Homo sapiens: one gene and its partners. The protein of the gene in region 1 purifies or fractionates together with the protein of each later gene. This does not show direct contact. Each region holds a gene or a part of one and is shown in the gene's direction. Other genes may lie near its edges.

Evidence for each region.
Region 2: the proteins of SLC9A6 (region 1) and CLGN purify together in Homo sapiens (co-immunoprecipitation; 3 studies listed by BioGRID and IntAct, with this or other methods). This does not show direct contact.
Region 3: the proteins of SLC9A6 (region 1) and PLD6 purify together in Homo sapiens (affinity purification with mass spectrometry; 3 studies listed by BioGRID and IntAct, with this or other methods). This does not show direct contact.
Region 4: the proteins of SLC9A6 (region 1) and FUT8 purify together in Homo sapiens (affinity purification with mass spectrometry; 3 studies listed by BioGRID and IntAct, with this or other methods). This does not show direct contact.

Annotation. Positions count from the first base shown.
Region 1 is NC_000023.11:135,988,337-135,995,662, forward strand, and holds part of SLC9A6 (sodium/hydrogen exchanger 6), read left to right. Parts: intron 1-6,449; coding exon 6,450-6,649; intron 6,650-7,326. UniProt on the Homo sapiens protein: Endosomal Na(+), K(+)/H(+) antiporter. Mediates the electroneutral exchange of endosomal luminal H(+) for a cytosolic Na(+) or K(+).
Region 2 is NC_000004.12:140,424,588-140,432,333, reverse strand, and holds the start of CLGN (calmegin precursor), read left to right. Parts: upstream 1-4,685; 5' UTR 4,686-4,797; intron 4,798-5,546; exon of another isoform or gene 5,547-5,630; intron 5,631-7,746. UniProt on the Homo sapiens protein: Functions during spermatogenesis as a chaperone for a range of client proteins that are important for sperm adhesion onto the egg zona pellucida and for subsequent penetration of the zona pellucida.
Region 3 is NC_000017.11:17,203,324-17,210,489, reverse strand, and holds the start of PLD6 (mitochondrial cardiolipin hydrolase), read left to right. Parts: upstream 1-4,156; 5' UTR 4,157-4,203; coding exon 4,204-4,630; intron 4,631-7,166. UniProt on the Homo sapiens protein: Presents phospholipase and nuclease activities, depending on the different physiological conditions. Interaction with Mitoguardin (MIGA1 or MIGA2) affects the dimer conformation, facilitating the lipase activity over the nuclease activity.
Region 4 is NC_000014.9:65,611,553-65,618,878, forward strand, and holds part of FUT8 (alpha-(1,6)-fucosyltransferase), read left to right. Parts: intron 1-4,425; coding exon 4,426-4,541; intron 4,542-4,658; coding exon 4,659-4,821; intron 4,822-5,537; coding exon of another isoform or gene 5,538-5,639; intron 5,640-7,326. UniProt on the Homo sapiens protein: Catalyzes the addition of fucose in alpha 1-6 linkage to the first GlcNAc residue, next to the peptide chains in N-glycans.

The DNA of each region.
Region 1 (7,326 bases):
GCTGTGGACCAAACAGCCTCCTAACTTAACTCGCAAGTCCAGTTCGAGAATAGATGGGATTGGGTCAAAGTTTCTTTCTTTCTCTCTCTTTCTTTTCTTTCTTTCTTTCTTTCTCTCTCTTTTCTTTCTTTCTTTCTTTTCTTTCTTTCTTTCTTTCTTTCTTTTCTTTCTTTCTTTCTCTCTCTTTCTTTCTCTCTCTTTCTTTCTTTCTTTTTTTGTGGAGGGTCAAAGTATTTTCAATAGCATGAAAATTGAAGTTTTCTTTTTCCTTTTTTTATTTTTGATAGAGTGTTGCTCTGTCGCCTAGGCTGGAGTGCAGTGGTGGGGTCATAGCTCACTGCAGCCTCAACCTCCTGGGCTTAAGTGATCCTCCCACCTCATCCTTCTGAGTTACTGTGACTACAGGTGTGCATCACCACACCTGGCTAATTTTTTATTTTTATTTTTGTGGTGACGCGAGTGTGGGGGGGTCTTCCCATGTTGCCCAGGCTGGTCTCAAGCTCTTAGCTCTTGGGCTCAAGCTATCCTTTCACCTTGGCCTCCCAAAGTGCTGGGATTATAAGTGTGAGCCACCTCGCCTGGTCAGAAATGGAAGTTTTCTAGTCCTATTTATTGTCTGTTATTTTTCTTATAGCTCTCACAACATCATAGCTATCTTATTATTATTAATATATTATTTTAAAACCTTTATTTTTCAGCATGACTCTGGGGTCAAAATGGGATGCCTAGACCTCTAAGATTCAGCCCACTGGTGATCTTATTCCTGTGATATTGGGTTAGCTACGTAAATCCTGGAAAATGCTATTAAAAATAAGCTTTTCCTTTATCTGAGAAGCAGGAGTAAAAACAGTTTAAATTGCCAAAGTGGTCAGTTTCTAGATTGTAATATAGATCAATTGCTCCAGTTACAAACACACAATTGCAAAGTACCCACATGTTTTGCTCCTTGGGTTAGCTTTCTTAAGAAGCTTAAAAGTGAGTCACTGTTAGTAAAAGTTGTCGAGGTAGTTAAATTAAGTCTGAAAAGTGATCACGCACTACACTGTGCTTACAGATGGTATAAAAAGCAAAATATGGCAGAAATATTTGTATTGCCTTAAGCTTAAGGCATCTGGAGTCCGAGGTTTAACCAATGTGATTCATCAATAAATATTGATTAGATGTCTATGATGTATGGGATATGATGAGAAATACATGTTTGAGCCACAGTATCTGCCCTCAAAGCACTTATCATCTAATGACTATGGCTCATACCTTATTTCTCATCATATCTTTCACAAAACTAATCTGTAGAAATTGTATCAGTTTTGGTCACACTTAATGCCCTAGTGATGTTCTTCCTATATTTTTGACTATCAGAGGCTTCAGGTGTGATTGGCTGGAATAATGGGCTGAAATCCATGAGGAAACCAGTCACTGCCAACTGGGAGAATCACACATTAGTAGGGCCTTGGGTGATGCTGATTTTTTTTATCACTGGGAGACTTTTCAGCACAGGAGGGTCAGGAATGTGTAGGAGGGTTAGGACCTCTCTGTTTTGTGAAAGATATCTCTTTGTGGTTGTGTTTTTTTTGTTTTTGTTTTTGTTTTGAGACGCGTTAGGACCTCTCTGTTTTGTGAAAGATATCTCTTTGTGGTTGTGTTTTTTTTGTTTTTGTTTTTGTTTTGAGACGGAGTCTCGCTCTGTCTCCCAGGCTGGAGTGCAGTGGCGCTATCTCGGCTCACTGCAAGCTCCGCCTCCTGGGTTCATGCCATTCTTCTGCCTCAGCCTCCCGAGTAGCTGGGATTACAGGTGACCGCCACCACGCCTGGCTAAATTTTTTGTAATTTTAGTAGAGATGGGGTTTCACTGTGTTAGCCAGGATGGTCTCGATCTCCTGACCTTGTGATCCACCCACCTCGGCCTCCCAAAGTGCTGGGATTACAGGCATGAGCCACAGCACCCAGCCATGGTTGTGTTCTTTGTTGCCTGTTAGTGGTCATTTAAAGTTTCATAATATAAATATTTTCTGTGCCTCCCTCTATGTAGGAGGCTAGAAGTTTCTGCTTTAGTCTCTTAACAAAGCTCTGTTTTTGTATCCTTTCACTGAGAATTGCTTTGACTCTATGACTAGGATTTGGCCTTTTACAGAACCCTCGTTAACTTGATCTGTGAATTTTTTTCAAATACCAATTTTTCAGATGCCTGGTGCCATAATAAAGGGATCTTGATTTTGTTTTCAACCTAAATAATTATTCTCCATGCTGTTGTTTTATCGACCAAGGTATGTGTTTCAAATTTGCCCAAGTGCTGAGCTCTCCTCAGGGTACCCAGTGATGCTTCAGCATAGGGTTGGGCAAACAGTAGAACCAGTGGGCACTCGGGAGGCGGAGGTTGCAGTGAGCCGAGATCACGCCACTGCACTCCAACCTCAGCAACAGAGTAGGACTCCGTCTCAAAAATAAATAAATAAATAAAATAAAAAAAAAGAACCATGGTTGGGCTTGGGGACATGGAAGGAATTTATGCTGCCATTATTAGCATTTGTAGTAGCTTGTCTGTGATTTTTGCATGTAAATATAAGAGGACAGCTTTTACTGAGCCTCTTAATTAGCTCTTGTGGAATAGTAGAGAAAAGAGCTGTTTCTGTCTCATACAGGCAGAACGACTGGATCTACAGGCTTTTCTCTTCTAGGTTATGTCTGTCAAGTGCAGTTGCTATCTAACAGTCAGTTTTTAATTTTGTTTTTGGAGGTGAGATATTTTTAAAAGGTGTCTTTCATTTATTTTAAATTCGAACCTTTGTTTAAACGTTTTTAAAGTTGGTGTCATTATACTACTGTTCACGAATGAATCATTACTACTCTAAAAAATATATGTGACTATAAATTGACCAGAAGGATCCCTCCTCTCTGCTCCCTCCCTGCTTCCTGGGCAACTACTGCCTTTTTTTTTTTTTGGACAGAGTTTTTGCTCCATTGTCCTGGCTGGAGTGCGGTGGCATGATCTCAACTCACTGCAACCTCCACCTCCTGGGTTCAAGCAACTTTCCTGCCTCAGCCTCCCAAGTAGCTGGGATTACAGGTGCCTGCCACCACGCCCGGCTAATTTTTGTATTTTTAGTAGAGATGAGGTTTCACTATGTTGGCCAGGCTGGTCTCGAACTCTTGACCTCAAGTGATCCACCCGCCTCGGCCTCCCAAAGTGCTAGGATTACACGTGAGCCACTGCGCCCGGCTGGCAACGACTGCTCTTATACCTCCTCATTTCTGCTTCATCACTTCTCACTTGGGTCTGGTTTCCACTCCTGCTACTCCACTGAAACTGCTCTTATCAAGGTCACCTATGGCCTCCTTGTTGCCAAACCCAATGGATACTTCTAATGCCTGCCTTACTCGACTTTACTATAGCATTTGATAGTTTTTATCACTTCCTTCTCCTCAAAAATGAATTTTTTCCCTTTCTTCCTGACTTTGCCACCACTGGTTCCTTTTTTTTTCTACTCCTGTGGGTTTTCCTTCTCAGACTCCTTCATCAGCTCCTTCTCCTCTAGCAGCCCCTTAATGTTGGCTGTTAATAGATCAAACCCCAGATCTATATCATAGTCTTCTTCCCATTTTACTTGCTCCCCTGGCGATCTCATCTACATCTGACTTCAACCATCTTATGACTGCACAGTGTATATCTCCAGTTGAGACCCCTCGCTTTAGCTCCAGATACCACATACTCAACTATGCGTGTGTCACAAGTACATCCAACTCAACGTGTCCAAAACTGAATGTAGCCTTTTCCCCTGTAAATCTGTTCATCTGTGTATGTTCCTTACCTCATTGAATGTCCTTGTTATCCCCCTCGGTGCTCAGGCCAACTTACCCACCTGGTTACCAAATCAATTAAGGTTCCTCTTAGTCTTTCATCTCCCTTCCTCAGTCACTAAATCTTCCTAAAATATAATACCTTCAAAAAATCCTTCTCGCCTCCTGTCAGTACTCTCTTAGGTTAGGACCTAAACTCTTATTGCCTGAATGCCTACAGTAGCCCTGTATCTAGCCTTTTAGACCCTCTTTAGTCTAGACCAGTCTTTCTAAAGTAGAAATCTGCTATCAAGCCTCTGCCTTCTATGACTTCATTTTACTTTTGGGATAAACTTCAAATTCCCTTCCCCAACAGATAAGATCTTTTATGATTCAACTCCTGCCAATCTTTCAAACCTCAACTCTTGTCACTTTATAAGCCAGCCATACTAAACTACTTGATTCACTGGATGGGCTGTGTTGTCTCCATCCTTGACTGATATGTACTACTATTCCCCTACGTGGAATATACCCATTTCTTCTAGTTTGTTACCTGCCCAGGTGACATCTCTGGAAAGACTTCCCTAATGTCTTACTCCCCCAGGGTTGCATAGTTGTCTCTTTTCTGTTTTTATAATACCTTGTATACATATATATATATAGCATTATGATTGTTTATTCAGTCTGTTTTCACCAACTGGACCGAGTTTTCCTTGACATTATGATTGTTTATTCAGTCTGTTTTCACCAACTGGACCGAGTTTTCCTTGAAGGAGGGACCTTGTTTTCATCTCTGAACCCTGGAGGCCTACCTAGCATAGTACACTCATTCACGTATTAAAAGAATGGCTGGCTAGTCAGAATGAAAGGCAATAGGAAGGTAAAATGCAGCTAGTAGTGGTATACTATGCATGGAGTTAAGGAAAGTTCCAGAAGTTTGGGTTTTATTTGTAGTTGAGGTATGTCCATACAATGAAATATCGTTTGGTCGTAAAAGTAAATGAGGTTCTGATGCATGCTACAACATAGATAAACCTTGAAAATATGCTAAGTGAAAGAAGTCAGACACAAAAGGCCATATATTGTAGGAGTTCATTTATATGAAATGTCTAGAAAAGACAGGTCCATAAAGAAAGAAAGTAGATGAGTGGTTGCCAGGGGCTGTGGATTCGGGCATGGGGGAATGGAGAGTGACTGCTAGTAGGTGTGGGGTTCTTTTTGGAGGGAAGGAAAATGTTCTAGAATTAGATAGTGGTGATTGATGTTCAACTTTGTGAATACACTAAAGACCACTGAATTGTACAGTTTTTAAAAGGATAAACTTTTGGTGTTTGAATTAGATATCAGTAAAGCCATTACTAAACAATTATAGTCGATCAATATAGTTTTATAGGGCTGGGCATGGTGGCTCAGGTCTGTAATCCCAGCAGTTTGGGAGGCCGAGGTGGATGGATTACAAGGTCAGGAGTTCGACCTTGGTCAGGAGCCTGGCCAACATGGTGAAACCCCATCTCTACTAAAAATACAAAAATTAGCCAGGTGTGTTGGTGTGAGCCTATAATCCCAGCTACTTGGGAGGCTGAGGCAGGATAATTGATTGGACCCGGGAGGCGGAGGTTGCAGTGAGCCGAGATCATGCCACTGCACTCCAGCCTGGGCAACAGAGCAAAATTTCGTCTCAGAAAAAAAAAAAATTTAGTTTTACAGTACCTAGAACATTGTGCATATTTGAATGTCAGTAGGATGATCCAGCAATCTGTTTGATGTCATAGTGCCAGATTCAGGACTTCTATTCCATGTTTTGATTTTGAAGCAGATTTTTAAAATTAAAATCTGATCTTTTAGAAGTAGAAGAACTCAATCAACCTACAAATATTATTGACTTTTCAATTTGTTAAATGTGCATTGTTTGGCCAGTCATGTGCTTTGGGAATAAACTTGCGAAGTGCATTGTTTAAGTCTTATAAATTGATGAATGGAGGTGAAAAACAAATTTCTTTTTTTTTTTTTTTGAGACAGGGTTTCACTTTGTTGCCCAGGCTGGAGTGAAGTGGCATGATCTCGGCTCACTGCAACCTCTGCCTCCTGGGTTAAAGCAATTCTCACACCTCAGCCTCCTGAGTAGCTGGGATTACAGGCGCCCGCCACCACGCCCGGCTGATTTTTTGTATCTTAGTAGAGTTGGGGTTTCACCAAGTTTCCCAGGCTGGTCTCGAACTTCTGAGCTCTCAGGCAATCCACCCATCTCGGCCTCCCAAAGTGCTAAGATTACAGGCATGAGCCACCGCGCCTGGCCAGAAAACACATTTCTAACACGATTGCACTGTCGAGTTGGGACACATTGGAGCATATTCTGTCTACAGATGATTTGAAGATATTTTCTCCTTTTGTTACCTTCCTCATTACTTATTTAAATATTGATCTAGAAATGCAGTGATCTGTGCTGTTGTCCTAGGGAATGTTTTTCTCTCCTGTTTCACTGGATTATATGAAGATTGGGCTGTTTGTTGTATGAATTTAGTAATATTTTAAAACATAACTGCATTTCATCTAAAAATCAGTTCTGAGCTACAGGGAACTACCGTAAGAGATTTTCTCTTATCCATAGTTATGCGTGGGGTACAAAAGAAGTGGTCTCTGTCGGCAAGAAGAGCTTATGTTGTTCTTTTTTCCAGGTCTTTTGGTGGGCCTTGTGCTTCGGTATGGCATTCATGTTCCGAGTGATGTAAATAATGTGACCCTGAGCTGTGAAGTGCAGTCAAGTCCAACTACCTTACTGGTAAATGTTAGTGGAAAATTTTATGAGTATATGCTGAAAGGAGAGATTAGTTCACATGAACTCAATAATGTTCAAGATAATGAAATGCTTAGAAAGGTAAGTTCTTAAAGGAAATCTTTGAATCTTTTTTGTGTCTAACTAGCAGCAAAATGATCCAGGAGAAAATAAGTAATGGATTTTTAATGATATTTAAAATAATGAGTCTTTTTCAATGGAGTAAAACCTCAATTAACAAATGTAATAATGTAAGGAAATGGATATGTCTGTACAACTCATTTTCTGATTGAGGTTAAGTAGTATAACTCTTTTTGTTTCTCTCTGGATTGTTTACAGCTTGTTGTGATAAATGGAGACTGGGATTGAGTTAAGCAGAATTTATAAGCGTTTCTTTCCATTTGCAGATGGTCCTTATAGTTTTCTTTTTCTTTTTCTTTCTTTATTTTATTTTTTCTGAGATGGAGTCTCACTCTGTCACCCAGGTAGAGTGCAGTGGCATGATCTTGGCTCACTGCAGCCTCTGTCTCCTGGGTTCAAGCAATTCTCCTGCCTCAGCCTCCCGTGTAGCTGGGATTACAGGCATCCACCACCACACCCGGCTGATTTTTGTATTTTTTAGTAGAGACGGGGTTCTACCATGTTGGCCAGGCTGGTCTCCAACTCCTGACCTCAAGTGAATCCCCCGCCTCGGCCTCCCAAAGTGCTGGGATTACAGGCATGAGCCACTGCGCCCAGCCGGTCCTTATAGTTTTATAGTACTTCAGCACATTGGCTTT
Region 2 (7,746 bases), on another chromosome or scaffold:
GCTACAAGCCCCATGCAAGTCTGAAATCCAGCAGGGCAGTCAAATCTTAAAGCTCTCCTTTGACTCCATGTCTCACATCCAGGTCACGCTGATGCAAGAGGTAGGTTCCCACGGTCTTGGGCAGCTGCACCCCTGTGGCTTTGCAAAGTATAGCCTCTCTCCCAGTTGCTTTCACAGGCTGGTGTTGAGTGTCTGCAGCTTTTCCTGGTGCACAGCGCAAGCTGTCAGTGGATCTACCATTCTGGGGTCTGGAGGATGGTGGCCCTCTTCTGACAGTTCCACTAGGTGGTGCCCCACAAGGACTCTGTGTGGGGGGCTCTGACCCCACATTTCCCTTCAGCACTGCCCTAGCAGAGCTTCTCCATGAGACCCCCGCCCCTGCAGCAAACTTCCACCTGGGCATCCAGGCGTTTCCATACATCCTATGAAATCTAGGTAGAGGTTCCTAAACCTTAATTCTCAACTTCTGGGTACCCACAGGCTCACCACCTGGAAGCTGCCAAGGCTTGGGGCTTCCACCCTCTGAAGCAGCAGCCTGAGCTGTACGTTGACCCCTTTTAGCCATGGCTGGAGCAGCTGGAACACAGAGTACCAAGTCCCTAGGCTGCACAGAGCAGAGGAGCCCTGGGCCCAGCCCACAAAACTGTCTTTTCCTCCTAGGTCTCTGGACCTGTGATGAGAGTGGCTGACATGAAGACCTCTGACATGCCGTGGAGACATTTTCCCATTGTCGTGTGGATTAACATTTGGCTTCTTGTTACTTATGAAAATTTCTGCAGTGGAGATTTTCATTTCTATCACATTGTCAGGCTGCAAATTTTCAAACCTTTTATTTTCTGTTTCCCTTTTAAAACGGAGTGCCTCTAATAGCACCCAAGTCACCTCTTGAGTGCTTTGCTGCTTAGAAATTTTTTACACCATATATCCTAAATCATCTCCCTCAAGTTCAAAGTTCCACAAATATCTAAGACGGGGCAAAATGCAGCCAGTCTCTTTTTTTATATATGCTGTGTGGTATGGATTGAAAAATGTACTTATTACATGTGAATATTCAATTGTACCACCACAATTTGTTGAAAAGACTAGGCTTTCTCTACCAACTGCATGTGTACCTATGTTGAAAACCAGTTCCCCACACTGTCTTATTCTGTTTTGTGTTGCTATAACAGAACACCTGGGAATGGGTAATTTATAAAGAAAAGAGATTTATTTAACTCACAGTCTGGCTAGCTGGGAAGTTCAAGGACATGGCTCTGGCTTGTGGTGAGGCTTTTGTGCTAGGCCAAAAGATGGCAGAGAAGGTCAAAGGGGAAGCAGACGCATGCAAAGAGGGAAAACCTGAGGGGCACCCAGCTTTATAACAACCCATTCTCATGGGAATGAATCCAGTCTCGTCAGAGCAAGAACTCACTCACTACTGCAATGGCATCAAGCCACCTACGAGGACAGGACCTTCATGACCCAAATACCTCCCATTAGGCCCCACTTTCCAGCACTGCCACACTGGGGACCAAATTTCAACATGAGTTTTGGTTGGGACAAACCAACCATATCCAGGCCATAATACATACACATGTAAGTCTATATAGAATCTATTCTGTTCCATTGATTTGTTTGCCTTGATACTAATACTCTTTGATAACTCTTTGATAACTATAGCTGTATATCATTCTATAAATCCTAAAGTCGGGTAGTGTTTCTGAGGGGGGTTATCTTGAGACACAAGAAAAAAACTCAGCATGGGCTCATTCTGCCAACTATATAGTTTAACCAGACGAATTCTGGGAAAAACAATGATGACTATTGTCATTACTATTATTTACTATTGTTTGATATTTTTGTTAAAGTAATAAGGAAAAAAACCTCAGAAAATAAGTATAAATATAAGAAAGAAAAGATCATTTTCTGCCATAGACATAATTATACATCTTGAAAATAAAAGTCAACCCACTGGAAATACTTGTGGAATACTTTGTTTCCTTTTCTCTATTTTCTGCACCATTAAAAAGCACATTCCTAAACATATGAAAATATACAAACATTTTTAAAGTATTATTTGAATTATCTAGGTTCTGAGTCCACTCATTGTATTTGAGTTAAAACTTCATTCTGCATAGCTCTTTAATCCTGATAATCGAGGCATTTCCTATATTCTGCATTTTTCAAGTGGCAAGGTGTTGTGGAAAGGGCACAGGCTTTGAATCCTCACTCTGCATCTTAAGATCTGTGTGAATAAGTTATGTAACTGATCTGGGTCTATTTCCTCATAAGTAAAATAAGGATGATACCTGTGGGTCAATTGCATATAGCAACTTGCACATAGTAGAACATTAATAAAACACAGCTCTGATTTTGATTACAAAACAGGCTTCCAACAGGACATCACTCTGTTCCATCAAGGAGCATGAACCTTTCTGCTTTTTTTTTTTTTTTTTTTTTTTTTTTTTTTTGACACAATGTCTCACTCTGCCATCCAAGCTGGAGTGCAGTGGCACTATCTGGGCTCACTGCAACCTCTGCCTCCTGGGCTCATCCCACCTCAGCTTCCTCCCACCTCAGCTTCCCAGGTAGCTAGGACTACAGGCATGCACCACCATGCCCAGTTAAATTTTTTGTATTTTTTTGTAGAGATGGGGTTTCATCATGTTTCCCAGGCTGGTCTCAGGCAGCTCGGCTCAAGTGATCTACCTGCCTCAGCCTCTCAAAGAGCTGGGATTACATGCATGAGCCACCATGCCAGGTCACCTTTCCTGCTTTTTATGTTTTTCTAGATTTCTGATTACTCTAGTCCCTCCAATCTTGATTACATTGCCTTGGTCTCTTCCCAAATCTCTCTTCAACTTTGATGTGTCAGAACACTTCACGACTCTACCATTCAGCATTACATTCTGGGACTCCTCCGCTTGTATTATTAAACACTACATCACTCTCAAAAGCCATACCCCTTGTCTTATTTGCAGATTATTCTTTCTCCTCTGACATTATCACATTGTATTATTCTGATGAAAAGTTGCCTATTAAACAAATTATAAATATTATATTCAATCATCCTTTCAATAAGTGGCAAATAATTTTGGAGATATGTTAAGGCCTTAAATTTCAAGGTTAGAGATTAGATTTCATGCTGTGGGTAATGAAGGGTCATTGGAAACTATTGAATGAGCTGAGGATTAAACTACGAAGTGTAGGTGGGAGGCTCTGAAGGGGGGCAACTAGTTAGGTAACTCTGAACAACAGTTTCTAAAGTAGTGAGAATCTAAACTAGAGAAATGGCACAGGGACTGGAGGGGGTGAGGACCTCTTTTAGATGATTTTATGGAGTTAGAGTTTAATTTATGGAGGCAGTGAATGTAGCAGCCAAAGAGTAAAAAAATGTTCTCAAGGTTTTGAGTACTATGTGACCAAGAAGATACTACTAAATCTTGCAAAAATTCACTATTCTTACATTTTTAGTTTTCAGCTTCCTCACTGCAAACTTTGAATGGATCCTTTAAAAAATCCCTCTCTAGCAGTTCAAGTGTATTTGTTATGGGCCACAGAAGTATGTTGAATAATAGAAGTCAGAAGGACGGAAGAAAGAAATAAAGGGTATAATATTGTTACAAAGTATCTCAAACAAAATGTCTTTTTAACCAGTAAATTTTAACACTATCCAAACACTCTCCCAGAGATGACAAAGTCAAAAGTTTAGAAATGCTGGTCTTAATTAGTGAAGCAATGTGAAAAAACTCAGTGATCTTGACCCCTAGCCAATAATGATACGTTGTGCACGGAATGCCACCAAACCCTTAAGATTGAAACTCTTCAACAAGGGTCTTAGACTCACAAGTCAATTAAATGTTGTTAATTAATCTTCCAATAAAATTAAATTGTTATACCAAATTCAAAGTCAAGATTTACTATAAAATATTAAGTAGTAAAATTAATATTGATCCAATATATAAAAGGCAAAGCAGCTTGTGATTGCATAATCATAGCATAAACTACGTTTATGCTAAGATTTATTTCAATGTGTTTGAAACTACAGGCTCTGAGAGAGACAGGCCTGATTTACATCCCGTTTCCACTGTTTACATGTTGTGTAACTTCGAGCAAGTTGCCATCAGTTTCATCACCTGGGTTGCCACGAAGGTTAAACAATGAATGTAAGCCCCTTAGAGCACAATGAACACAATAAATGTTAGCAGCTCTTATTAATAGTGTTGTTCGAGAGAAAAAGAACATATTGTTTTATATACAATGTATTTATTAACACTTAACGCATCTGTATTTGTCATATACACACACCAGACAGGAAAGCTCCTTATTAATCACCATGACTGCAGATCTGTTAACATCTAGAACTCTGGAGAAAACCTAGAGCCCTAATCTTGCTGCACTTATTACTGGACGTTGTTCATAAATATGATTTACATAAAATTCAGGACCCAATCATTGCGCAACAGGAGGTAGCACGGTCTGCAGAGAGGGCGGGAGCTCAGAGGAGGAAAAGTCTTCGGACTTGCAGGGGGAATTCCTCCTGGGCTAACCCGGGAGCGGGGTCCAGGCCACAACCGGCCGGCGGCGGCACAGGCTCCATGTGCGGCTCCCCCTGGAGGCGGTTGAGCCCCTCGGAGCAGGAGCGCGTAGCACACACCTCGGGCCGCCACCGCCTCCCGCCCGCCACCGCACGCGCACGCGCGGTTAGTAGTCGCTGCTGCGCGGCCGCCGGCGGGACTGGTCTGAAGAGACGCGGGGACCAAGTGGCAACGACTTGGACATCTGAGCTGTCACTGCCGAAAACAGGCCGCAAGAGAGGTGCGTGAGCAGCAGGCCGCGTTCCCGCTGTCCCGCTGCCCTTTGCGCGCAGATTGGGGTGAGGAAGCGGAGTCGTTGCTGCTTCCCCCAGGCACCCCGTTACTTTGCCGCCAGAGGGCTGAACCGGTCGGGGCCAAGTGAGGGTGGATGTTGAGTCTGGCGATGGGGCTGCAGCGAGCTAGGGTCTTGACTGGGCTCTGGCGGCCCCGTGGGTGGACGCAGGAGGTGGTGCCACCTGGGACCCTTTGTGTCTTCAGCACCGCCGCATCCACCTGCTGCGCCCGGGCTGGGGCGGACGAGCACGGGGACAGCTAGGTGCCTAGCCCGGCCGGCCTCCCCTGCGGGCTTGAGGAGCCACCGGGAGCCGAGGCCGTTATTCCAGCGGTTGCCATTGCAGCCCCGTTCCACGCTTGAGCCCGGGGCGCTCTCCCAATGGTTGTAGAGGGGGCCCGGGGCGCGTCTGGGCGCTGCTCACTCTGCTGACTGCTCCTTACAGAAACCCAAACGAGATCAAAATAGGCTCGGCTGTCTCAGTCTCCACCTATGTGGAAGCGAAGGGACCCCACTTCACGGCGGTGGGGCCAGGGACTGTTGGCCGCTCCCTCGATACCCGCGCAGAGCCCATTGTGCGCCGCCGGGGGGCGGGCGAAAGGGCTGGGTTGAATCCAGAGAGGCCCTAATTACTAGACTCATTATCGCCCCAGGCCTGTTTACCATCAATCAGACACTTTCGCTGATTTTATTTATAGCATCTGCCCAAGCAACAAAGAGGAGGTGTTTGCTTGGGAGTTAAAAGCAAATGGCAACCAAAGCTCAGGACTGGGAGAGAAAAGGTAAATAACGTGGCCACAGGAAGAAGTCTCAAATTAGAAAAGAGTTCATTAACGTATAAACTTTTTGTTGCTTAAAAGCAGGCAAAATCCCGATCTCATCTGATGATTTTGCTTGTTTTACAAATGTCGACATCACTCGAGGTAGCCCTCCTTTGGGTCATTGTAAGTTTGACCTGTTTTCAGTTTGGAGTTTTGCCTTCACGTCTTATTGGTTTGATCTTCCAGTAACATTTAGATCTCATCTCCAAATCCTCAGAACAAGATATTCTGTACTCTCTGTCTTAGCTAGTTGATAAGGTTAATTATTGTGTGTAAATGATGTAAGTATGTTGATGCATTTGTCTAGAAATTGAAGTGTTGTAAGTTAGCTGTAGTACTTTTTAAGTACCTAATAAATACTGGTGTTTTTAAATAGAAAACTAGAATTATGAACTTTAAAGAATCTTTGGATTGTCTAGTTCACGTCACAAATGAGAAAACAGGCCCACAGCAGTTTTTATCACTTGTCTTTTTAATAATAAAACTAGAAACTTGGTGCGATTGTGCCATGTTGGGTGTACTTTTTATTATATCATTCTACATTGCATTCCTGAAGCCACATGACAACTAAAACTTTAAGTAATAGGTGATTGTCAAACACCACTTCTGGAATATACCAGTGTTGGTCGGATCCTCAGTCAGCCATTAAAACTGAATAACAGCAGAAAGGCATCGCAGTTATAAGAAATAGCATGTACAAAAAGTGTGTTAAATAGGTGTGTTGAGAGTGAAAGAAGGCCCGGCGCGGTGGCTCACGCTTGTAATCCCAGCACTTTGGGAGGCCGAGGCGGGCGGATCACCTGAGGTTAGGAGTTGGAGACCAGCCTGACCAATATGGTGAAACCCCGTCTCTACTAAAAATACAAAAATTAGCCGGGCATAGTGGCGCGCGCCTATAATCCCAGCTACTCGGGAGGCTGAGACAGGAGAATCGCTTGAACCAAGGAGGCAGAGGTTGCAGTGAGCCGAGATTGTGCCACTGCACTCCAGCCTGGGTGACAGAGCAAGACTCCATCTCAAAAAAAAAAAAAAAAAAAAAAAAGGAATTACAAAAATGTGTCACAGAAACATAAAGTGACTATAGTGTTGGAAAAATGGCAGCTGTAGACTTGTTCAATGCAGTGTTGCCAGAAACCTTCAATTTGTGAAAAATGCAATAAATCAACGTGCAGTAAAATGAGGTATGCCTGTATGTACACACACACACACACACACACACACACACACACACACACCCTATTGATTCTGCTTCTCTGATGAACTCTGACTAATAAAATGACTCTCCTCCAAGTAATGATTCAGGGATTCTGCAACTTCCTACCTTGGAATTTTGCCGTTTTCAACCATGACCTTCAAAATTGCTTGCATCAAACCAGAAGGGGAAAGATCATAAAGAATTATAATTCATAATTATAGGAAGTTTTTATGGGCAAGGGCTGACAATGGCATACAGGTCTTCTATTTACATTCTGTTGGCTGGAACCAGGTAATGGTCACATCTAGTGCCAAGGAAATTACCCTTGTGATCAGCCAGCAACTTCTCCCACACTATACAACACATATTGCATATCCTGTGATTGTCTTTTCTTTGTGTGCCTTACTTACCTTTGATGTGACAGTGAGCATTACTTCAATACCAGTACATGAGCTGCACTTTATAATTTGTAATTTGGGGGTGGTAGTGGAGATCCAGTAGGGTTTTTAGGAGATATTGGTGTAATTATTTAAAGTAGACCAGACTACTTGATCTAGATTTCAAAGATTGGGAAGAATGGTATCTCATTCATGGATAAAGTTACTTGTGCTTCAATTTGTTATTGAACTACCACAGAAGCAGTGCAGAGAACATACATGAGATCAAAGATACGTGTTGGTGCAGAAGGATGTAGTTCTTCAGTGCCTCCCTTCTTATGAAGGCACAACTGATATTTAGTGATCTCAGCAAGCCTCATGGAGTGAGGAATACATAAGAAGCTTGGAACCCTGGGCATGCTACCTTTTAATTTATAAGGAGGGAAGAGGGTGACATTAGCACTAAATGTTCTACCCTATACCATATAAACAAATTCTTGCTGTA
Region 3 (7,166 bases), on another chromosome or scaffold:
GTGGTGTACGCCTGTAGTCCCAGCTACTCAGGAGGCTGAGGCAGGAGAATCACTTGAGCTCTTATATATTGTGGAAATTAACCCCTTATCTGATAATATAGTTTGTATAAGCTTTTAAAAAATAAATTGTATATATTTAAGGTATACGACATGATGTTAATGACATACACACACATATTAAAATGGTTATTATAGCCAGGCACTGTGGCTCACACCTGTAATCCCAGCACTTTGGGAGGCCAAGGTGGGCGGATCACCTGAGGTCAGGTGTTCGAGACCAGCCTGGCCAACATGGTGAACTCCCATCTCTACTAAAAGTACAAAAATTAGCTAGGCGTGGTGTCAGGCACCTGTAATCCCAGCTGCTCAGGAGGCTGAGGCAGGAGAATCGCTTGAACCAGGGAGGTGGAGGTTGCAGTGAGCTGAGATGGCCCCATGGCACTCCTGTCTGGGCAGCAAAGCGAGACTCTGTCTCAAAAAATAAAAAATAAACACAAACGGCCAGGCACGGTGGCTCACACCTGTAATCCCAGCACTTTGGGAGGCCAAGGTGGGCGGATCACCTGATGTGAGGTGTTCGAGACCAGCCTGGCCAACATGGTGAAACCCCGTCTCCACTAAACATACAAAAATTAGCCGGGCGTGGTGGTGGGTGCCTGTAATCCCAGCTACTCTGGAGGCTGAGGCAGGAGAATTGCTTGAATCTGGGAGACGGAGGTTGCCGTGAGCCAAGATCACGTCACTGCTGACAGAGCAAGACTCCATCTGAAAAATAAATGAATAAAAAACTAGGCCGGGCACGGTGGCTCACGCCTGTAATCCCAGCACTTTGGGAGGCCGAGGAGGGCAGATAGTGAGGTCAGGAGATCGAGACCATCCTGGCTAACATAGTGAAACCCCATCTCTACTAAAAATACGAAAAATTAGCTGGGCGTGGTGGCGGGCACCTGTAGTCCCAGCTACTTGGGAGGCTGAGGCAGGAGAATGGCGTGAACCTGGGAGGCAGAGCTTGCAAAGTGAGCTGAGATCGCACCACTGCACTCCAGCCTGGGCAACAGAGCAAGACTCCGTCTCAAATAAATAAATAAATAAATAAACTAATAACTAAATGTTGTAACACAAAAGAGGATAAATGCTTAAGGTGATGGATATCCTGTTTACCCTGATGTGATTATTACAAATTGCATGTCTGTACCAAAATATCTCATGTACCCGATAAATATATATACCTACTATATACCGACAAAGTTAAAAATAGAAACTGGAAGACAAAAAATAAATAAAAATCAAATAAAGCTTCTCATTTTGTTGTCTGCCTTTGGTAGATTTCCAGCCCTGAAGTGGCTGTTTTTGAAAACTGTTTTCCCCCAGTTTTATTTTTGTTTATCCCTCTCTGGAGGGATTTGAGTCCTTCTTTATACCTCCACAACTCCAAGTCCCTCCTCTCATTATCGTTTTAGATGAGGAAAGTGAAGCTCAGAAGAGATGAATCAATTTGCCCTAGACCATGCAGCTAGGAAGCCTGGGAGCCAGCACTAAACTCAAGTGTTCTTTTTCTTTGTTAAGAATTTTATTCGCCAGGCACGGTGGCTCACACCTGTAATTCCAGCACTTTGGGAGGCCGAGGCAGGCTGATCACGAGGTCAGGCGATCGAGACCATCCTAGCTAACACGATGAAACCCCGTCTCTACTAAAAATACAAAAACAAAAATTTAGCCGATGTGGTGGTGTGCATTTGTAGTCCCAGCTACTTGGGAGGCTGAGGCAGGAGAATTGCTTGAACCCAGGAGGTGAAGGTTGCAGTGAGCCGAGATCGTGCCACTGCACTCCAGACTGGGCGACAGAGCGAGACTTCATCTCAAAAAAAAAAAAAAGAAGGCCGGGTGCGGTGGCTCACGCCTGTAATCCCAGCACTTTGGGAGGCCGAGGCAGGTGGATCACGAGGTCAGGAGTTCGAGACCAGCACGGCCAAGATGGTGAAACCCCATCTCTACTAAAAATACAAAAATTAGCCGGGTGTGGTGGTGGGCGCCTGTAATCCCAGCTGCTCGGGAGGCTGACGCAGAGACTCACTTGAACCCCGGAGGCAGAGGTTGCAGTGAGCCGAGATCGCACCACTGCACACCAGCCTGGGCGAAAGAACGAGGCTCCGTCTTAAAAAAAAAAAAAAGAATTTTATTGACATAATCACTGACATACATTTTTAGTTATTTACACCATACAATTTGACATATGTATATACCTGTGAAACCACCACAGTCAACCCGATAAGCACACATCCATCACTCCACTTCCTTGTGGCTTTGTTGGCCTCCAGGCTACACTGGTCTGCTTTCCCTCAATCTAGTTTGCATTTTCTAGAATTTTATGTAAATGGAATCATACAGTATGTACTCTTTTTGTCTGGCTTTTCCCACTCAATATTAATGAAATTCATCCACGTCGTAGCACATGTGAGTACTGTTTTTTTTTTTTTTTGGTGGGGGGGGGATAGGGTCTTGCTGTGTCACCCAGGCTGGAGTGCAATGGCATGATCTTGGCTCACTGCAACCTTAGTCTCCAGAGCTCAAGCGATTCTCCCACCTCAGCCTCCCGAGTAGCTGGGATCACAGGCACGTCAGCGCACTCAGCTAATTTTTGTATTTTTTGGTAGAGACAGTGTTTCACCATGTTGGCCAAGCTGGTTTCGAATTCCCGAACTCAAGCTGTCCTCCTGCCTCAGCCTCCCAAAGTTCTGGGATAACAGGCATGAACCACCGTGCCAGGCCACTTCATTCTATTTTATTGCTAAATAGCATTCCCTTGTACAGATATACAAAAGCTTATTTACCTGTTTACCTGCTGACGCCTTTTTGGGTTGTTCTAGGCACATACGCCTGCCAGGACACGTGCTTGTGTTAATGGATCCCGCCCTTTCTCCTAGGAGTGGGATAGCTGGATCATATGGAAGGTGCAAGTTTAATATTTTAATAAACTTTTAATTTAGAATAATTTGCTTTACAGAAAAGTTTCGAATATAGAACAGAGAGATCCATTTACCCCCACGCAGCTTCCTTTGTTAACCTTTTACATTCCTTTCATACATTTGTCAAAGCTAAGAAACTGACATTGGTACAATGCGATTAAGCTCCAGACTTTATTTGGCTCTCACCAGTTTTTCCGTGAATGTCTTCTTTCGGTTCCAGGATCCAGCCCAGACCACCACATTGCCCCGTTTCCCTATGCCCCCGGCCCAGTGCCCTCGGCTGCCTTAGTCTCTTCCTCTGTTTATGCTTAAAGCAGGGCAGGCCTTCCAACAACGCCGGCTGGAAAAAACCTCTTGGGCTAGGAAAAAACCTCTGGGCCGACACCGCCTCCAGTATGCTGGGTTCCAATGCTGCCTCCAGCTGTGTTGATTCCCTGATTATCTGTGTTCCCAGGTCATTCCCCAGCCCAGCCTAGCTGCTCCCGAGAAGACAGTGAAGGTGTGACCCCACATTTCCAGAGCAGCTCTGCTGTGCTCCATGCGAGGAAAGCCGGGGTTGCTGTGGCTTCTAGCGCGGAGAGCGGTCTCTGGCCTGGGCAGGTGACGGGTGTGCTAGGGCCCGTGGCCCGCGGGTGTGCAGGTGCTGCCTGGTGGCGCGGGCTTGGGGACGTGGCTTGGCACGTGGTGGGAGGTGGAACCTGGAGGGCGTGGCCGAGCGCCTGGCTGGAAGGAAAATGGGGGGCACAGCCTGGCGTTGGGGGGTGGAGGGTGTCTGTGGCAGGGGGCGTGGCCTGGCGCGTGGAGGGAGGCGTGGTCACCTGTTGAGGGTTGGGGGCGGGCTGATGGGAGGCGTGGGTTCAGCTTGGTGCGTGACAGTTGTGGGGGCATGGCGCGGCCTAGCGCGTGGCCCTCGGGGGCTGAGGGCGTGACCTTGCACGTGGCCGTTGGTGGGGCGTGACGGGGGCGTGGCCTGGCGTGTGGCCATGGGTGCTGGGCGTGGCCTGGCACGTGGCCTGGCACGTGGCCGTTGGCGCTGCGTGACGGGGGCGTGGCCTGGTGCGTGGCAATTGGCAGGACGTGATAGGGCGTGGCCTGGCGCGTGGCCATGGGGGGCTGGGCGTGGCCTGGCACATGGCCGCTGGCGGCGCGTGACGGGGGCGTGGCCTGGCGGTCTAGGGCTGGGGGCGCGCAGACTCCGCTGCGGCGGCGTGGCTGTGGGTCCCGGATTAGCGGCGGCATGGGACGGTTGAGTTGGCAGGTGGCGGCCGCGGCGGCTGTGGGCCTGGCTCTGACTCTGGAGGCGCTGCCTTGGGTGCTGCGCTGGCTGCGGTCCAGGCGGCGGCGGCCGCGGCGCGAGGCGCTGTTCTTCCCGTCTCAGGTGACCTGTACCGAGGCCCTGCTGCGGGCTCCGGGCGCGGAGCTGGCCGAGCTCCCCGAGGGCTGCCCGTGCGGCCTGCCCCACGGCGAGAGCGCGCTAAGCCGCCTGCTGCGTGCCCTGCTGGCCGCCCGCGCCAGCCTGGATCTCTGCCTGTTCGCCTTCTCCAGCCCGCAGCTGGGCCGCGCCGTGCAGTTGCTGCACCAGCGTGGGGTGCGAGTGCGGGTCGTCACCGACTGCGACTACATGGCCCTCAACGGCTCGCAAATCGGTCTGCTGCGCAAGGCAGGTAGGCCCGGCGGGGTCCAAGCGGAGAAGGCCGGCTTGGCCCACGCGGGGTCCTAGGCGCAAAGGTGGACACTTAGGGGAGGGGGTCTGGGGACGGGCTGAGGCCTCATTTACTTTCCTCGTGGCCTTGTGGGGTCGGGGTGGTGTAACGCGGAGAAAGCAGAGCCCCCACAGAAGGTCTAGCCGGCTGCGTGGGCATAAGCGAGCCGGACCCTCGGTGCCTCCGCGGTGGGGGCGGTTCTCTCAGTGAACTGTCCCGGCATGCTGGAAGCAGGTGGGCCTGCGTGTGCCGGGTTAGAGGCGGAGCAGATTCCCCTAGCAACTCCTCGGGCGCCGCCGGCGGAGTTTTCGTGACTGCTGCAGCCCGGGCCCGCCCTCCTACGCTGCCGGAGATCCCCGGACGGCCTCTGGTAACCTGGATCCTGGTGGCAGGGGAGCTGGACGCCAGGGTTGTGCTTGGACTTCCAGACTGAAGGGCTCTGGGGAGAGGCGGCCACCTGCTGCCCAGTGAATCTCAGGCCACTGGGCTCTGGGAGACCTGAACATGTTCTAGAAAGCAGCGCCAGGACATTCGGTTGTTTTCCCAGCTGCAAAAGGAGGGGAACACATATTTCTGGCGGGGGCGCCTCTCTCATGGGGTGGGGACAGAAGGGACCAGGAAATGTGAATAATTGGGATCCTTGTCCCACCTGAGGATTCTCAGTCCATCCTGGCCCAGTTCGGCGGCCCAGCCTGCTGTTGCCTTTTGTGTATCTGCACTCACAGACTCTTGGGCCTGTCTCTGTCTCCATCACTCAGGCACCCAGAAAGTCACGCCTGCACGTGCAACGGTTGGATCTGATAATACTGGTGGTCGCAGTGACCGAGAGATGTGTGGAGCCCTGGGAATTGTCCAGGCTGGGCAGTGGTCACCGCCGCGCTGTTCCTTCTGCACAGCCATAGCCTCTTGTTGACTTGGGCCTCAGAGCAGCCTCTCCAGAGTCAGCCAGGGTCCCTCCCTGCTCTGGGTGGTGTGGGGCATGTTGCACGCCATGTGGGAGCAGAGTGGGGCACGTGGTTTTCATATTGAGGATGTCTCCTTCTCTTTGGGGCAGCCACAAGAGCTGTCCTCCCATGTGTTGGTCATTTTAACGGGAGGTTTGGGGACCTCCAGGCATGCACAGTACAGTTCTGTTTGAGTTGCTTTTACAGTCGTAGAAGCTGAGGTTGGTGAAGACCCTTCAAGGGCCCCTAGACCAAGGTCCCATCGGATCCCCTCTGGGATGGCCTCCCAGCATCCTCGCTGACTTCGAGGCTGTCCAGTGGCATTCACTGTTCAAGGAATGTCCCCTCTGTGCCAGTATTTGTGAGGAGCTGGAACATCCTAGGGCACAAGGGCACAAGGCCAGGTTGCCACGGAGATGCCAACTAAGTCATGAATATTTCATTTAGGGCACTGAGAAGGGCCAAGAAAACTTCATAAAGCAGGGTAAGGAGGCAGTGGTGTGGGAGGAAGTGGCGTGGGCCAGGTCAGCTGCCCAGGGGCAGTGACACTCAGGGCAGGGACCTTGCTGACACCAGTGGACTGTTCGGAGGGAGAGGCATGCGGCTGGAAGGGGCAGCAGCACAGTCGCCCTGGGTCACAGACTGACTTCCTTTTGAGGAAGGGCAGGAAGTCCCCTGTGGCCAGAGGTGGCAGGCCGCGGGGAGGGGACGGGGAGGTGGGCAGTGGATCCCAGCGGAGGCAGGAGGTGTGGGCGATGGTGGGGTTTTACATTGCCCACCGTGTGGAGGAATGTGTTTGGAGGGCTGTGCCGACAGGACGTGCCAGAGGAGTGGCCAGAGTGTGAGAAGAAGGGCTGGCTCCTCGAGGTAAGGAAGCCACCACGTCTTCATCCTGCCAGGCCCAATTTAGGGGGCACAATTAAATATGAGTTCCATGCACAGGGAGTGATTTTTAGGGTATGTTCCCAGTACTCCATGGGACACACTTCCCTTCAAAGATTACTCTTTATCTGAAATTCCATTTAACTTGGATGTTCTGTATTTTGATTCGGAAAATCTGGCAACTGTGTTCCATGGCAGCCTGTTTAAAACTTCTTTTAAGCCCCATTTCTGACGGCCTCATTCCTTAAGCAGGTCGTGAGTGAGGCAGTGTTATTCCAGGGGAGACAGACACAGGCCCTTCCCAAGAGGAGTTTGAAAGCTGGGAAGAGCAGAGGCCGGGATGCCTGGTTCTTTGGTGAAGGAAGCAGGGGGGTGCGGAAGAGGAGAATTCATTTGTGCGTTGTTAGTTAGGGCCCTTCCTGCCTTGGTGGCCGAGGTTGTGCCAGCAAATTGGGCTCTGCTCTCAGACGCCGGGGCCTCTCTGGGCAGAGTGGGCACGCTCTCAGCCTTAGCTGTGGAAGAGTCAGAACCTGAAGGCTCACACGCTGTCTTTGCCCTGGTCACCTCTGACTGGGTTAGTGACAGCCTTGGCAGCAAGCAGTAACCCCGAAGGGACATACTGGCTGGCATAGACTCGGAGGTGTGGCCTCACCCAGACCACGGCCTGCCCA
Region 4 (7,326 bases), on another chromosome or scaffold:
CTACAATATATAATCTGCAGTAAATCTCATTCTTTATATTTTTCATTTCAGACATTATAGTTTTCATCTGTAGTAGTTCAACTTGGGTATCTATTAAAATTTTTTCTTTCTTTCTTTCTTTTTTCTGAGATGGAGTCTCACTCTGCCACCCCGGCTGGAGTTCAAAGGCGTGATCTCGACTCACTGCAACCTCTGCCTCTTGGGTTCAAGCAGTTCTCCTGCCTCAGCCTCCTGAGTAGCTGGGATTACAGACGTCTGCCACCATGCCTGGCTAATTTTTGTATTTTTCATAGAGACAGTATTTCACCATGTTGGCCAGGCTGGTCTTGAACTCCTGACCTCAGGTGATCTGCCTGCCTCAGCCTCCCAAAGTGCTGGGATTACAGGCGTGAGCCACCGCACCTGGCCTATTAAAATTTTAACATCTTTTTTATATCTTCCCTGTCTCTAACTTTTGAACATATGAAATACAGTCATAATAACTGTTATTTCTATGGTGATTCTAACATCTGTGTCAGTTTTGAGTTGGTTTTGATAGATTGATTTCACTCTTCTTTATGGGTTGTCTTTTCTTGTTTTTTTGCAAGCCTGGTAACTTTTGTGGATTCCAGACATGAATTTTACCTTGTTTGTTACTAGAAGGTCTTGTATAATTTACAAATATTCTTAAATTTTGTTCTGGGATGTAGTTATGTTATTTTAAAATAATTTGATCCTATTTTGTCTTTTAATAATTGTTAAGTGGGACCTAAGCAATGTTTGGTCTGGGGCACATTTTCCTGCTATTGAGGCCAAATCCTTCTGAGCATTTTACCCAGCATCCCATGAATTACGGTTTTCTAGTCTGGCTGATAGGATCAGGAACTGTTTCTACCTAATCTGTATGAATGCCAGGTACTACTTCCTCTAATCCTTTTAGAGAGTTCTTTCCCCAGCCTGAGTAGTTCCTTATGTGTGTGTGCTGATGAGTACTCTGCTAATTCCAAAATGGTACCTTTGCAGATTTCTGGAATTCTCTGTCCTCTACAGTTCTCTCTTATTCAAACTCTGTCTTGGTCTTTTTAGACTCTTAGCTCCATTTCTTCAACTCAGTGAATGTACTGGCTCCATCTGCATTTCCCCTCCATACACTGTGGTCTGGAAACTCTCTGAATGCAGTAAGCTGGGACAGTCACAGGGCTATCATCATTTGTTTTCCTTCTCTGGTGATCACTGCCCTTTGTTGCCTGATTGCAATTTTATTAGATCATTGTTTAATACATCTAACCTGGATTTTGAGTTGTTTCAGGCAGGATGGTAAATGTCTTGGCTAGAAGTGGAAGTCTTATATATCTGTATCTTTGGCATGGTGAATGTAAGAAAGCATTCTGTTCCCTAAGTATTCAGAAAAGAGACTGTTCGTGCATATTGACTCTTTTCTGGATGGAGTTTGGAAAGAATAGTTCTCCTGTATTTTTTTTTTAGAGTGATTTTTCCAGTAATTTTCTTTTCCAGTTTTTTTTTTCACAGTTGGATTAGATTATTAGGCAATATGGATTACTAATTCCATTATGTTTTATTAGAATTAGATTGGAACTCTTTGTGGAAAGCTACTGAAAAGATCACATGCTATTTTTTTCATGGCTGTTTTGCCTCTGATGTTTATTCCACCAATATTTGAAGAAAGAGATAAAAAGGAGAACCTAGACATAATCTTTCTATTGTCAATTTTTCTATCACTAACATATGTTCTGAAAAAGGACATTCCTGTCCTATAGTATATTGCTGCCAAAATAAATCCCAAGAGATTGAAGTTTTATTCTATTTTCAAATTGTTTCCTAGAAACCAGCCACCTAATTCACAAAGAGATTAAGAGCCAAGTCTTAGAAACATAACTTTAAAAAACTATATACCAGGACATGCCTCATTTGTGAATGTATGCGTGCTCATAAATTGGGTAATTGTGCACCTAACTACTGTATTCATTTTTTATTATTCGCTTTGTGCTTATACAAATGAAGGCTTTTTCATTCATATTCTGTAGCCTTGGACACTCATGATTGGAGGATAGTTACTTTTTATGCTCCTGTTCAATGTTAATGCGTACAATTTTACAGGAAATTATAAAATGTCTCCAATTACTTTGGTATAGCTGTAACAATAGCTACTTTATTAAACGTGTTCTGAAGTAGTGTAGGTAATTGACAGTTAATTTGGCTTTATCAGGTTATATAGAAAATGTTAGAGAAGCTATAAAAAACCTTTCGTATCAGAGTGTTTGCCTCAAAAGGCTATGTTGGCTGGGCGCCGTGGCTCATACCTGTAATTCAGCACTTTGGGAGGTTGAGGTGGGCGGATCACTTGAGGCCAGGAGTTTTAGACCAGCCTGGCCAACCCAATGAAACCCCGTCTCTACTAAAAATGTAAAAAAATTAGCCAGGGATGGTGGTGCATTCCCGTAATCCCATCTGCTCAGGAGGCCGAGGCACGAGAATCATTTGAATCTGGGAGGCAGTGGTTGTGGCAAGCCAAGATCCCATCACTGTACTCCAGCCTGGGTGACAAATCGAGACTGTGTCAAAAAAAAAAAAAAAAGACTGTGTTGACATCTGAATTTAAGTTCTGCCAACTATAATTTAAAACTTAAGTTCCCTTAAACTGGTCATGATGGTAAGAATAGATAGCCCAGACTTTTTGAGATTACAGCTCATCTCTAAAATGACAAAGCTCAGATATAATAGTAGCCTTCATAAAATTTATTGCCAGACACTGCTAAGTACTTTTACAGACATTTCCTCATTTAAATAGACTTTGAAAGAAAAATCAGCTATTTAATCTTTAGGACAATTTTGTAAAAGGATCAATATATGTACGTATTAATTTCCTATTGCTGCTTTGACAAATACCACAAACTTTATGGCTTAAAACAACATAAATTTATTCTCTTAAGAGTTTTGGAGGCCAGAGATCTGAATTGAGTTTCACTGCACTGAAACCAAGATGTCAGGAGGGCTGGATTCCCTAGAGAAGCTCTAGGAGAGCATCTGGGGTATTTTTGTTTGTTCGTTCGTTTGCCTTTTCCAGTTTCTAAAAATGTCTTCCTTGCTCATGGTTGCTTCTTCCATCTTCAAAGCTAACAGCCACATAACCTTTTCCTCTTCTGTAGTAAAATCTTCTTCTACCTTCCTCTTATGAAGACACTTGTTATTACAAAATGGCTCACCTAGATAATCCAATCTCAAAATCCTTAATTATATATTCAGAGTTTCTTTTGCCATAAAGAGTAATATTCACAGATTTCATGATTAGGTTATGGATATCTTTGGGAGACCTTTGTTTAGCCTACCACGAAATTGTATTATGTACATCAAAGTGGAGTACAGTATACTGCCATAAGTCACATAAAAACAAAACAGGAACAAGCACAGTTTGGAATTAAGTTGAACAGAGAGGTTGATAATATAAGTAAGAGATCTTGGATTGCTGTTCTGTGTTCCAGCTTTTATATTATTGACTGATTGTTTTTGTTGCTGATAGAAATGAATAGAACAATGATCTTCAATTTTTTATTTTTATTTTTTCGAGACAGGGTTTCACTCTGCTGCCTACACTAGAATGCAGTGACATGATCATAGTTCATTGTAATCTTGAACTATGGTTCAAGGATGGTTCAAGCCATCCTCCTTCCTTAGCTTCCTGAGTAGCTGGGACTGCAGGCACACACCACCATGTGCCCAGCTAATGTTTTCATTTTTGTAATGATGGGGGATTGCTGTGTTGCCCAGGCTGGCCATGAACTCCTGGGCTCAAGTAATCCTCCTACCTGGGCCTCCCAAAGTGCTGGGATTATAGGCATGAGTGGCTACACCTGGCCCAATTTTTTTCTAATATGTTTTATCTTCTACTCTTGTCTTTCTTTTTTCTATATAAGACCAATGCTTAGTAGTCTAATGTCATGAATTGAAAGACAGATTTACATAGTCTGATATTATAATTAATTTAGAAATACATTATATTTGATGTTTGAGCATGTCCTTAGACACATGTTCAGATATGCTTCGTTATTCCCTTTAAGCCTTTTCTTTACTTTTTCCTTCACTTTTGTTACTCTCAATGCTAATGAATAATTGACCTCTTTGCCACTGATCATGGTACTCTGGGGATGAAAGATTTTTAGGAAACAGCTCTAGAGGTTTGTTAACTCCTAGAAGATCATAGATTTCTGAAGTAGATTAATATTTTCTATTTTTCGTTATTATCATTTCATTGTCCATTTCACTGGTTAATCCTATACCTTTGAAGAGAAAATTCCATTTGGTACTACTTTTGTGCTATATGGTTCAACAACTTATGGAGTTTACAGTATAAATGTTTTAGAAAGTGAGCTTGTATTTTGTTGCACAGTTTGAAAGCTAAATGTTTACATTATCTTCCCTAAACTACAGGATACCAGAAGGCCCTATTGATCAGGGGCCAGCTATAGGAAGAGTACGCGTTTTAGAAGAGCAGCTTGTTAAGGCCAAAGAACAGATTGAAAATTACAAGAAACAGACCAGAAATGGTAGGTGATTATACAGTGTTTTCCCCTCCTCAGTATATGGGCTTTAGCACAGATAATTGAAAGTTTCCTTTTATCAAAATGTTGGAAATGCTACAACTCTCTATTCTTTGACTACAGGTCTGGGGAAGGATCATGAAATCCTGAGGAGGAGGATTGAAAATGGAGCTAAAGAGCTCTGGTTTTTCCTACAGAGTGAATTGAAGAAATTAAAGAACTTAGAAGGAAATGAACTCCAAAGACATGCAGATGAATTTCTTTTGGATTTAGGACATCATGAAAGGTACTATTCTCCTTTCACATTTTATTTGGGCTTTAGAAAAGATTATAATCTAAGAATGAGAAACAGACTTGTTAATCCATCTGTTGAGTGGTAAATATTAATAGCACCTACAATATTTAAGAGGCGAAGAGTACCTGAGGTCCCAAAGGATGGTAATTGCCAAGTGCAGTTCATCAACCAAAATATACCACCAGAAAGTATTAATTAAAATGTATTTCTAGAAATCTTTACATTCTAAATAAATTCTGAAGGTAGTGGTGCCAGCCAACAATACATTAAAATATCTTTCTATAAATGTTCTTTATATATAATCAGTATTTGAAGTGGAGTGTGCAGTTTTGCATTGCGGTACATTGGAACTCATAGTGAGTCCGATGGTTACATTTCTAATTCAAACATTAAAAACTTTAAAATAGCATTTTTTTAAGGATTTCTAATGAAAGGTTAACAGGATTTTTTTTTTCTTTAAGTAAAAAGGAGCATTCTGTTCATTGTTCTTTCATTAGTTGCTGGAAAGAGGTACCTGAGATCTGCCTGGTTAAATTTGTTTCTCCTATGCACACGTTGCTAAATAATATGAAGTTTATCTTCCACAGAAAAGAAAACATTTTGGTGCTGTTGTATTCATGCAGAACAAAATGTATCTGAAAATCATTATAAATACAGTGAAACCTGTCTTTAGGCCTGTTATATTTAAAAGTCTATGTTTCCAGTAGGATTCTGATGGCAATTACTGTCTCATTAGTGAACAATAAAAGAAAAATTGTTGTATTAGCACAACCTACTACTGTGAAGAGGAAAAGAATTACCCCATACAAGTAAGAGATTTCATATTTATTAACATCAGCAGCAATATTATAATGATTTTGAAAAATTGCTTGGTTGTTTTAGGTGAAATTATAAATAAAAATCTGTCTATTGGAATCATTTTAGCATTAATGAATCTACAGAAATATGATAGCATGGATTTCAAGGGGCAGTGAATTATTAGGCCACACATTGGACAGACTTTTTGATATATTTAGCCCAACTTGCAGTCAGGCCATACTTAGACCACTAAACCAAATGCTGACTAATTCTGTCATTAATATTTCTCTACCCTAAAGCTGATTCTAGGCACGAAGCATCTCTTAAATGGAATTTTGTGCTTGTGTTCTTTGCTTATCACAGTTTTTTAGGCCAATTCACATCTGAAGAGGATTTGACTTGGGTAGACTATGCTGTATGTAAAGGAGAATTTTGGCCACTGACTTCTGATGGAATGTTTAATTTTAAGATTTGAGTAATTGGGCTGGGCGTGGTGGCTCATGCCTGTAATCCCAGCACTTTGGGAGGCTGAGATAAGAGATCTCTTGAAGCTAGGAGTTTGAGACCAGCCTGGCCAACATGGTGAAACCCCGTCTCTACCAAAAATACAAAAATCAGCCATGCATGGTGGCACATGCCTGTGATCCCAGCTACTTGGGAGGCTGAGGCCCAAGGATCACTTGAACCTGGGAGGCAGAGGTTGTGGTGAGCAGAGATCATGCCACTGTACTCCAGCCTGGGCAACAGAGCAAGACTCTGTCTCAAAAAAAAGATTTGAGTAATCAAATAACTTGAGAATTTAATTTTCCAGTGTTTTTAAAAATTAATTCATATATATATATATATATATATATATATATATATATATATATATGTATGTATATATTTATTTATTTATTTTTTAGATGTGGAGGTCTTTCTATGTTACCCAGGCCAGTCTTGAACTCCTGGTCTCCAGTGATCCTCCCTCGTCAGCCTCCTGTGTAGCTGGGATTATAGGCCTGGGCTACCATGTCCAGCTGAATTGAAATAATTCTTTAAGGAATTATTTTGTAAATAATAATATAATTTGTTTATATAACTCGCATATGTTTTGTGACCATATGTACAAATGAAAAGTGAATATAAGAAATGGGCCCCTGAGAAACTGATATAAATCAGTTTTCCATTTTGTTGTTGTTGTTGTTGAATTATGATTCCTTACAGTGCCATTTAGTATGTTAAATAATGGTAGTTCATTGAAAACAAAAATGGTAAGTAAAGGTACCCAAGTCAGTTTATTTTCCTGTCTTAAACAGAAATGACAATGAATCTGGGACATAACTTCATAGGGTAGTAATTTAACTCCAGGAAGCCAGATTAGAATGCAGTAATACAAATAATGAGCAAAACACAATCAAACATTAGAGAAATAACCCTTAAACTGACGGACGTACAAATAGAAAGGACTTTTATTATGTAGAATATACCCTTTTACTGACCATTTTCAAGATCCTTAAGTATAAGAATTAAAATCAAAACAAACTTTTAGGTTTGCCTCTGGTAATTTTTATATGATACAAAAGTCCATTTTATTTTTACATTGGCTCAAATGATAGTGTATAGGTTTCTAGGTCTGTAGCTGGGACCATGGTCAGTGAGGCTGCCACCTGGGTATGGGCCTGCCTTCTTAAAAGAGCCCTCCTGAGTCTTGGGCTC